2 linked regions of the Homo sapiens genome follow. The protein of the gene in region 2 purifies or fractionates together with the protein of the main gene of each other region. This does not show direct contact. Each region holds a gene or a part of one and is shown on either strand. Other genes may lie near its edges.

Evidence for each region.
Region 1: the proteins of NAA25 (region 2) and PARP9 fractionate together in Homo sapiens (co-fractionation; one large-scale study listed by BioGRID). This does not show direct contact.

Annotation. Positions count from the first base shown.
Region 1 is NC_000003.12:122,540,167-122,543,986, forward strand, and holds part of PARP9 (protein mono-ADP-ribosyltransferase PARP9), read right to left. Parts: intron 687-3,820; coding exon 306-686; intron 1-305.
Region 2 is NC_000012.12:112,046,193-112,050,012, forward strand, and holds part of NAA25 (N-alpha-acetyltransferase 25, NatB auxiliary subunit), read right to left. Parts: intron 3,420-3,820; exon of another isoform or gene 3,291-3,419; intron 2,252-3,290; coding exon 2,100-2,251; intron 1,599-2,099; coding exon 1,473-1,598; intron 420-1,472; exon of another isoform or gene 1-419. UniProt on the Homo sapiens protein: Non-catalytic subunit of the NatB complex which catalyzes acetylation of the N-terminal methionine residues of peptides beginning with Met-Asp, Met-Glu, Met-Asn and Met-Gln. May play a role in normal cell-cycle progression.

The sequences.
Region 1 (3,820 bases), on a different chromosome or scaffold from region 2:
TACTTTTCCCCATGGCTTGGGCTTGAGTTTTACCACTGCCAAAATTCCATGTAATTGCCTCTTAGACAATCAAGGTTATTACAAGTAAATAAAATTGTGTTTGTGTATGTGTTCACAAATAACCCTGATTGTCAAAAGAGAGCAAAAAAATAGCTCACAAAGGCTTATGATCTAACAAAGAACCAGAATGTTTGATCCCTCCTCTCTCCTTCTGTCTCTTACCCACATCCATACATACACGCTCACACCCAAAAGAAGAAACAATGGGGAGAATTTACTTTCTAATTTGATAGAAAGTTACTCACCTAACGAGCGCCAAAGGCCTCGCTCCTTTTTCCTTGCCATTTCCTCCTGTACTTTACAAAGCATATCTTCAATGTTCATAACCACCTCAATGAGGTCAGCCCGGGCTCCTTCAATCTCTAACTCTGTCCTTCCTGGGCTGATAATTTCTGTGATGGAGACACTTGAAGTTTTCTGAAGCTGAGACAAAATGTCATGTTCCTTTCTCCCAAGGTACAGAATATGATTATTCTCAATGATGTGGTGGTTCTGGAGACTCAGGATTCTTTGGATCCATGCGTGGGCCTCATACATCTCTTCCACGTTGAATCCCATCAGATTGATGGCAGGAGATCTAGCTTCAAGCCCATTTTCTCTTTTCTCCTCTCTGGTTGACTGGGGGACTGAAATGACTATAATAAGCAACCATGGAAGACTAGCAGTTTTTTGTTTTTTTTTTGAGATGGAGTCTCGCTCTGTCTCACAAGCTGGAGTGCAGTGCTGCGATCTCAGCTCACTGCAAGCTCCGCCTCCCGGGTTCACGCCATTCTCCTGCCTCAGCCTCCCGAGTAGCTGGGACTACAGGCGCCCGCCACCAAGCCCGGCTAATTTTTTGTATTTTTAGTCGAGACGGGGTTTCACCGTGTTAGCCGGGATGGTCTCAATCTCCCGACCTCGTGATCTGCCTGCCTCGGCCTCCCACAGTGCCAGGATTACAGGCGTGAGCCAACGTGCCCGGCCGACTAGTGGGTTTTAAAACAGTGCAGAACAAAACACCATGGCCAGTGTTTTACCCCTATGATATTGTCACCACTGTCAGCAGTAGCAGCTTCAATTAAGTACCTATCTCTGAAAGCTGCATTGGGTATGAAGGAAATCAACCTGTATCGTTTACAGCCTCCTTGGGAACACAGAGTTTAGCTTGTAATGGATTAGCTTTATCGTCTCTTGCCTCTGCTATGTTGCATTTGGCAGTTCACAGATGAGTTCACCTTGTGATCTCACCCTGGATGTTAACTAAGTATTATTTCCTGCTGAATAGGATTTTCCTTAACCTCTTGCTACTAGTTTTAAAATCAAACATCTCTGAAAGACACAGAGCTTGAAGAGTCAAAATTATTTTTTAAAAAACAAACATGAATCTCTGATTTTAAGAATAATACATGTTTATTATTTAAAAATTGGGAAATTATCGACATATAATGGAAAGAAGAAATACCTGTAATTCCACTACTCAGGATTCCTCACAACCTTATGAGAAAGATACTAGTAGTTGTCCCATCTCACCAACAAGGAAACTGATTCACAGAGTCATTAAGTAACTTGCCCATGGCTATAGGACTAGTTAGTGGTGGCCATGAAGCTAGTAGGTATGGGCATCTGACTCCAGTGCTCCCACATATGCCTCCCAGTGAGTAATATCTGAATAGCAGTGGAAATTCTCATCTTTCTCCTGAGATCTCAGTTGTGTGGTACAGGAGCTACAAAAGAAGTATAAGGACAGACCTAGAAGTAAGATGGGGAGGATGGCCTTCCTCTGAGTAAAGATAAAAAAGACAAAAGCCAAGGTTTTAGACAACAGTAAGAAGTAACCCAGGTTTTATATTGGAGGCATACTTTTTTTAAAACCCTTGTTCTGTCTAGGAGATTATATTATTTTTTAGGAGAAAATAAAAACAATGCATAGTGATATTGCATTTATCCATTATTATCAAGAGAAACTTCTTTTTCTTCTTCTTCTTCCTCTTCTTCCTTTCTCCTCTCCCTCCCCCTACCCCTTTCTTCTCCTCCTCCTCCTTCTACTACTACTTTTTTTTTTTTTTTTTTTTTTTAGAGACAGGGTGTCACTATGCTGGTCTTGACCTCCTGGCCTCAAGCAATACACCCACCTTGGCCTCCCAAAGCACTGGGACTACAGGCATGAGTCAGCATGCCTGGCCAATAATCATAATAATAATAATACTAATTTTTTTTTTGAGACAGAGTCTCGCTCTGTTGCCCAGGCTGGAGTGCAGTGGTGCAATCTTGGCTCACTGCAAGCTCCGCCTCCCGGGTTCACACCAGGCTGTCGCCCAGGCTGGAGTGTAGTGGCGCAATCTCGGCTCACTGCAGCCTCCGCCTCCTGGGTTCAGACGATTCTCCTGCTGCAGCCTCCCGAGTAGCTGGGATTACAGGCGCCCACCACCACACCCGGCTAATTTTTGTACTTTTAGTAGAGATGGGGTTTCACCATGTTGGCCAGGCTGGTCTTGAACTCCTGACCTCATGATCTGCTCGCCTTGGCCTCCCAAAGTGCTGGGATTACAGGCGTGAGCCACTGCACCCGGCCAATAATTATTATTCTAACTTTAGTATATGTGTTGGCAAAGCGAGCACTATTCTTCTAGATAAGTAAATTGTTCGGATCACTAAAGGATAACTCTTCTAGCACCAAAATACACTGAATTTTAACTCTGAGTTATCTATTTATTTTTTTGAGACCAAGTCTCCCTCCGTTGCCCAAGCTGGAGTGCAGTGGCACAATCTCAGCTCACTGCAACCTCCGCCTCCTGGGTTCAAGCGATTCTCCTGCCTCAGCCTCCTGAGTAGTTGGGATTACAGGCACACGCCACCATGCCTGGCTAATTCTTTTTTGTATTTTTAGTAGAGATAAGGTTTCACCATGTTGGCCAAACTGGTCTCGAACTCCTGACCTCAGGTGATCCACTTGCCTCGGCCTCCCAAAGTGCTGGGATTACAGGCATGAGCCACCGTGCCCGGCTGAATTAAATATTTCTAATGATAACGTACCACCTCTCTGCCTTCCTAAATAGTTTTTTGTTTGTTTGTTTGTTTTTTGTTTTTTTTTGAGACAGTTTCCCTCTTGTTGCTCAGGCTGGAGTGCAATGGCGCAATCTTGGCTCACTGCAATCTCCACCTCCCACGTTTAAGCGATTCTCCTGCCTCAGCCTCCCGAGTAGCTGGGATTACAGACATGTGCCACCATGCCCGGCTAATTTTGTATTTTTAGCAGAGATGGGATTTCTCCATGTTAGTCAGGCTGGTCTCGAACTCCCGACCTCAGGTGATCCGCCTGCCTCAGCCTCCCAAAGTGCTGGGATTACAGGCGTAAGCCACGGTGCCCGGCCCTTCCTAAATAGTTTATTTAACCTTTCCTTGATAATCTGAGATCATCATCATTAATCATTTTGTTTATTTGTCACCCAGGTTGGAGTGCAGTGGCACAATCATGGCTCACTGCAGCCTTGACCTCCCCGGGCTTAGGTGATCCTCCCATCTCAGCCTCCCAAGTAGCTGGGACTATAGGTATGCACCACCACACCTGGCTAATTTTTGTATTTTTTGTAGAGATGGGTTTTAACATCTTGCCCAGGCTGGTCTCGAACTCCTGACCTCAAGTGATCCACCTGCCCTGGCCTCCCAAAGTGCTGGGATTACAGGCTTGAGCCGCCATGTCCCTTGATTAATCATCTCCATGTTAATTATTGTCCTGTGCTATATAATTCCTTTACAGATGTCCGCAAGAATTACTGAATTA
Region 2 (3,820 bases):
TACCCACATAACAATGAAACCTTAAGCACCAAGTCTCTACTGGGTTTCCCTGAGCAGGAACATTCCACCTGTGTTACTGCATTTTTCCCTGCTGGAGAAAGGAGCATACTCAGTGTTTCCCCTCAGAGGAGGGAGAAAGCACTGGAAGTCTGAGTTCTCCCGACTGTGCCTGTTCCTTTTTCCCTTCCGGATTCTGTCATGTGTCCTTTCACTGTAATAAACCTTAGCCGTTGAGTGCAACTATATGCTCAGCCCTGTGAATCCTTCTGGGACTCAACAATCCTAAATCACTGAATGTGGCCTTGGCAACCCACAAATCACAGAATTTTCAGAACTACCTCATATACACTTCTTAGCATGTTTCTGCATTTATTTCCTTAGGTTCTACTTTCCTAGAAGCAGATCTGCCAAATTAAATGGTATGTGGCATTTTAAATCTTGATACATATCACTACAACTCCCTATAGGAAGACTGTATAAAATTTATCCCTGTGTAAATGCATAATAAGTATTTACCACACAGCCTTGCTGACCACAAGTATTCATCTTTTTTGCTAGAAACAAAATCTTTATTGCTGTAAGATGTGTTTCTTTGCCCAATTTCTTATTTTCTTATTGACTTATTAAGAGTTCTCTCTATATATGAAGGATACTTGTATGAAGAAATTTACTACAAACCTTTAGAACTTAACAAATTTATTATTTCTATTTACAGAAGTTAAATCCTTTATGTTTCCAGATTTGGTATAATACTAGGAAAGGCTTTCCTCACCTATTTAAAAATATTTTCTATATTTTCTTCTAGAATTTCTAAGGAATCTAGAATTTAGCATACAGTCTTTAATCGATCTGGAATTCTCATATATGCTGTGAAGTAGATCTAACTTTTAGATTAACCAGCAGTCCCAGCATAGGGGTGAGCTATACTTTCTTCATTTGGCTTACCTATATTTTCTGATCCCTACAACAAACACATGTTATTTTATATTTGTGTAAAGTGAAGTTTGTTTTTTTTAATTTTAGATTCATCCTAATTCTTTTTTTTTTTTTTTTTTGGAGATGGAGTTTTGCTCTTGTTGCCCAGGCTGGAGTGTAATGGTGCGATCTCAGCTCACTGCAACCTCCGCTCCCTGGGTTCAAACAATTCTCCTGCCTCAGCTTCCCGAATAGCTGGGATTACAGGCACACGCCACCACGCCCAGGTAATTTTTGTATTTTTAGTAGAGATAGGGTTTCACCATGTTGGCCAGGATGGTCTCGAACTCCAGACCTCAAGTGATCCACCGGCCTCGGCCTCCCAAAGTGCTGCAATTACAGGCCTGAGCCACCGTGCCCAGCCCAACCTAATTCTTTAAAAATAAACTGCTTCACCCAGGAGTTCGAAGCTGCAGTGAGCTATGATCTTGGTCTCTTTAAAAAAACAAAAAACAAACAAAAACTTTAAAAATTGCTTGGGGTTAAATTCCAGTTACCTGTCTTTTGGATCCCAGCTGAAAAAAACATTTAAGTCTCTGTTGTCTCGCAAATCTTCCCATGGAATGTCATCTTCTTCTGGCCTAAGGTTCATTGACTTTATACTTTCTGCTAAACTGGTTGATCTGTGATAGAGAAAAATCCACATATTATTTTAATAGTAAAATAGCCAGAAAATATTATTAATCAGGACTTCCTGTTTTACTAGACAGGAAGGGAAAGAGGAAGGAAGGGCTCATAATAAGGTGAAATAGAACCAAGCGCAGATCAAACTGGCTTGCTACATGGCAAGAAAAAGGCTTCTGGAAGCCCACACAAAACAAAGGGGATCAGCATTAATTCCTGAAATCTCTTGATTTGTAGGGGAGGCGGAACCTTCGTAAGCACAATATGGACCAGGCATTGATGACCATGACCTAAATGGCTTCTGTAATGGTCTCAAGATGTTGCTGGCAGTACTCTACCATTCCCCATGACATGTGCCAAGTTCTGTTTCCCCACTGTCTCTCTCCCTTTTTTCCCCCTATTTTACCTTAAGCCTGCCAATAACACCCATGAGCCCATTAATGGCTCTTAACAACTGATCTAATCCCTTAGTTCCTTTATAGCTCTCATGCAATACTTACATATTTGCTTCAAGTAGAAGGTCTAACAGCATCCGTTCAGTACGGACTTGTGCAAAATGAAGAGAATTATTCAGCCTGTTCCTAAAAGCGATAAACTCTGGGATCTTCTCAAATGCACCATATTTGTAAGCTTGAATAATATATTCTGAGGTCTGAGAAGGAAAGACATCACCTTGGTATAAATAGTTCACAAGTCAGGCAATGTAAGCAAACCTTGCCAGCCAAAACAAAACACTCAAACTAAAATTAAGTTTTAAATCTAATCTTTAAAGGTCTTGGTCACCAAGTAGAATATTAGCTTTTTAAAATGTTTTTCTTCCTTCTTATACTTTAGACAAATGTCTCCTTTACTAATATTACTAATTGTAATAACCAGCTTCTGCCACCATCACATAAGCCTTCTCTTGGCAGTCATGTCTTTCAATTCAATAGGAACTGAGGTTTTGTTTTGCCACATCAGTCAAAAATTTGGTTAGTGCCATTCTGGAAGGGATGTTACTCCATGTTTTTCTGCATCTAAGATAAACTGTGTTTCATACAAAGGTTCCAAAAGCACCAGAATAATAGAACCACCTGCCCCCCGCCCCCCCAAATAAAAACCACTCTCCTTCAGAAAAAGACAGGCTGCTCCTTGGTTTTGCTTATTTCTGAATACTGTATTAGAAACACAGGGCATATGAGCATTACGTCAGGATAGAAGTAAGACACCAAACAAAAGACCTATCAAAATTCATGTCATAATCTATTCTGAGGACAAAGACTTCAAGAACCAAGTTTCTTGTCCATCTACATTACGTAAGACCTCTGCTGGAAATTTCCTTAAACAAGTATGTGAAGGGAACATTCACCACATGTGCTTTAATTGTAGCTTAATACATATACAGAGATCAAACATTACAGAACAGAGGCAAGATAAAGAATTCTAAGCAGAAATTCTGGCACAATAGAAGAAAATCTCAGGGAAGAACATTTCATGGGTGTGGGTCTATGCCATCAGGATCAGAAGACAGGAGATTACCCCTTTGGGCCAAGGAAACTATTATGCTCAAAGCTGATGTCTGCCCCCAAAAAAGATCCTTTCTAGAAAAAACAGTCTTTTTACACAGCCTCAGTTAATCAGCTCTGCCCCCATCTCCATTACGTCTGAATAATTTGCCCAGTAGGAAAATAGGCCAATAGTCAACAACATACCCTCTGATATACAGCCTTGCAGGGTTCATTTCAGGCCGCGGGATTGCGCCACGGGCGCTAATTCAACTGCATTCGATGCGGCTTTTAAACCCCCATGGGACACCTCGGCGAGCTGTTTGCCTGCAGTATCTGGAGAAATTAAAGACGGACGGACACAAGAAAATTAAAAAGATTACTTGTGATCCTGCAGGTTTCAAGAAGGACTACCTGAAAAAGCTCGAGTATACCTTCTAGCTTGATTAAAGGACAGTGATACACCCTATCAAGAGGAGGCCAGGATACTCTAAACACATATGCCTATCCTATGGCCCCTTGGCTTAGAAAACACAGCAAGGTTTACTACTATTAGCCCTTGTAATAGGAACTTACAGCTGGGGAAAAAAAAACAGCTGGTTAGGAACACATGATTCAGTAATTAATCAAAAAGAAAATATGACTTTAGTAATTCCAATCAAAGTTATAATTACAGTTCCAAAGTATGCTATGATTTAAGGAGGGAACCCAGCCTTACCAAGTGTAGAGGCAGTTTT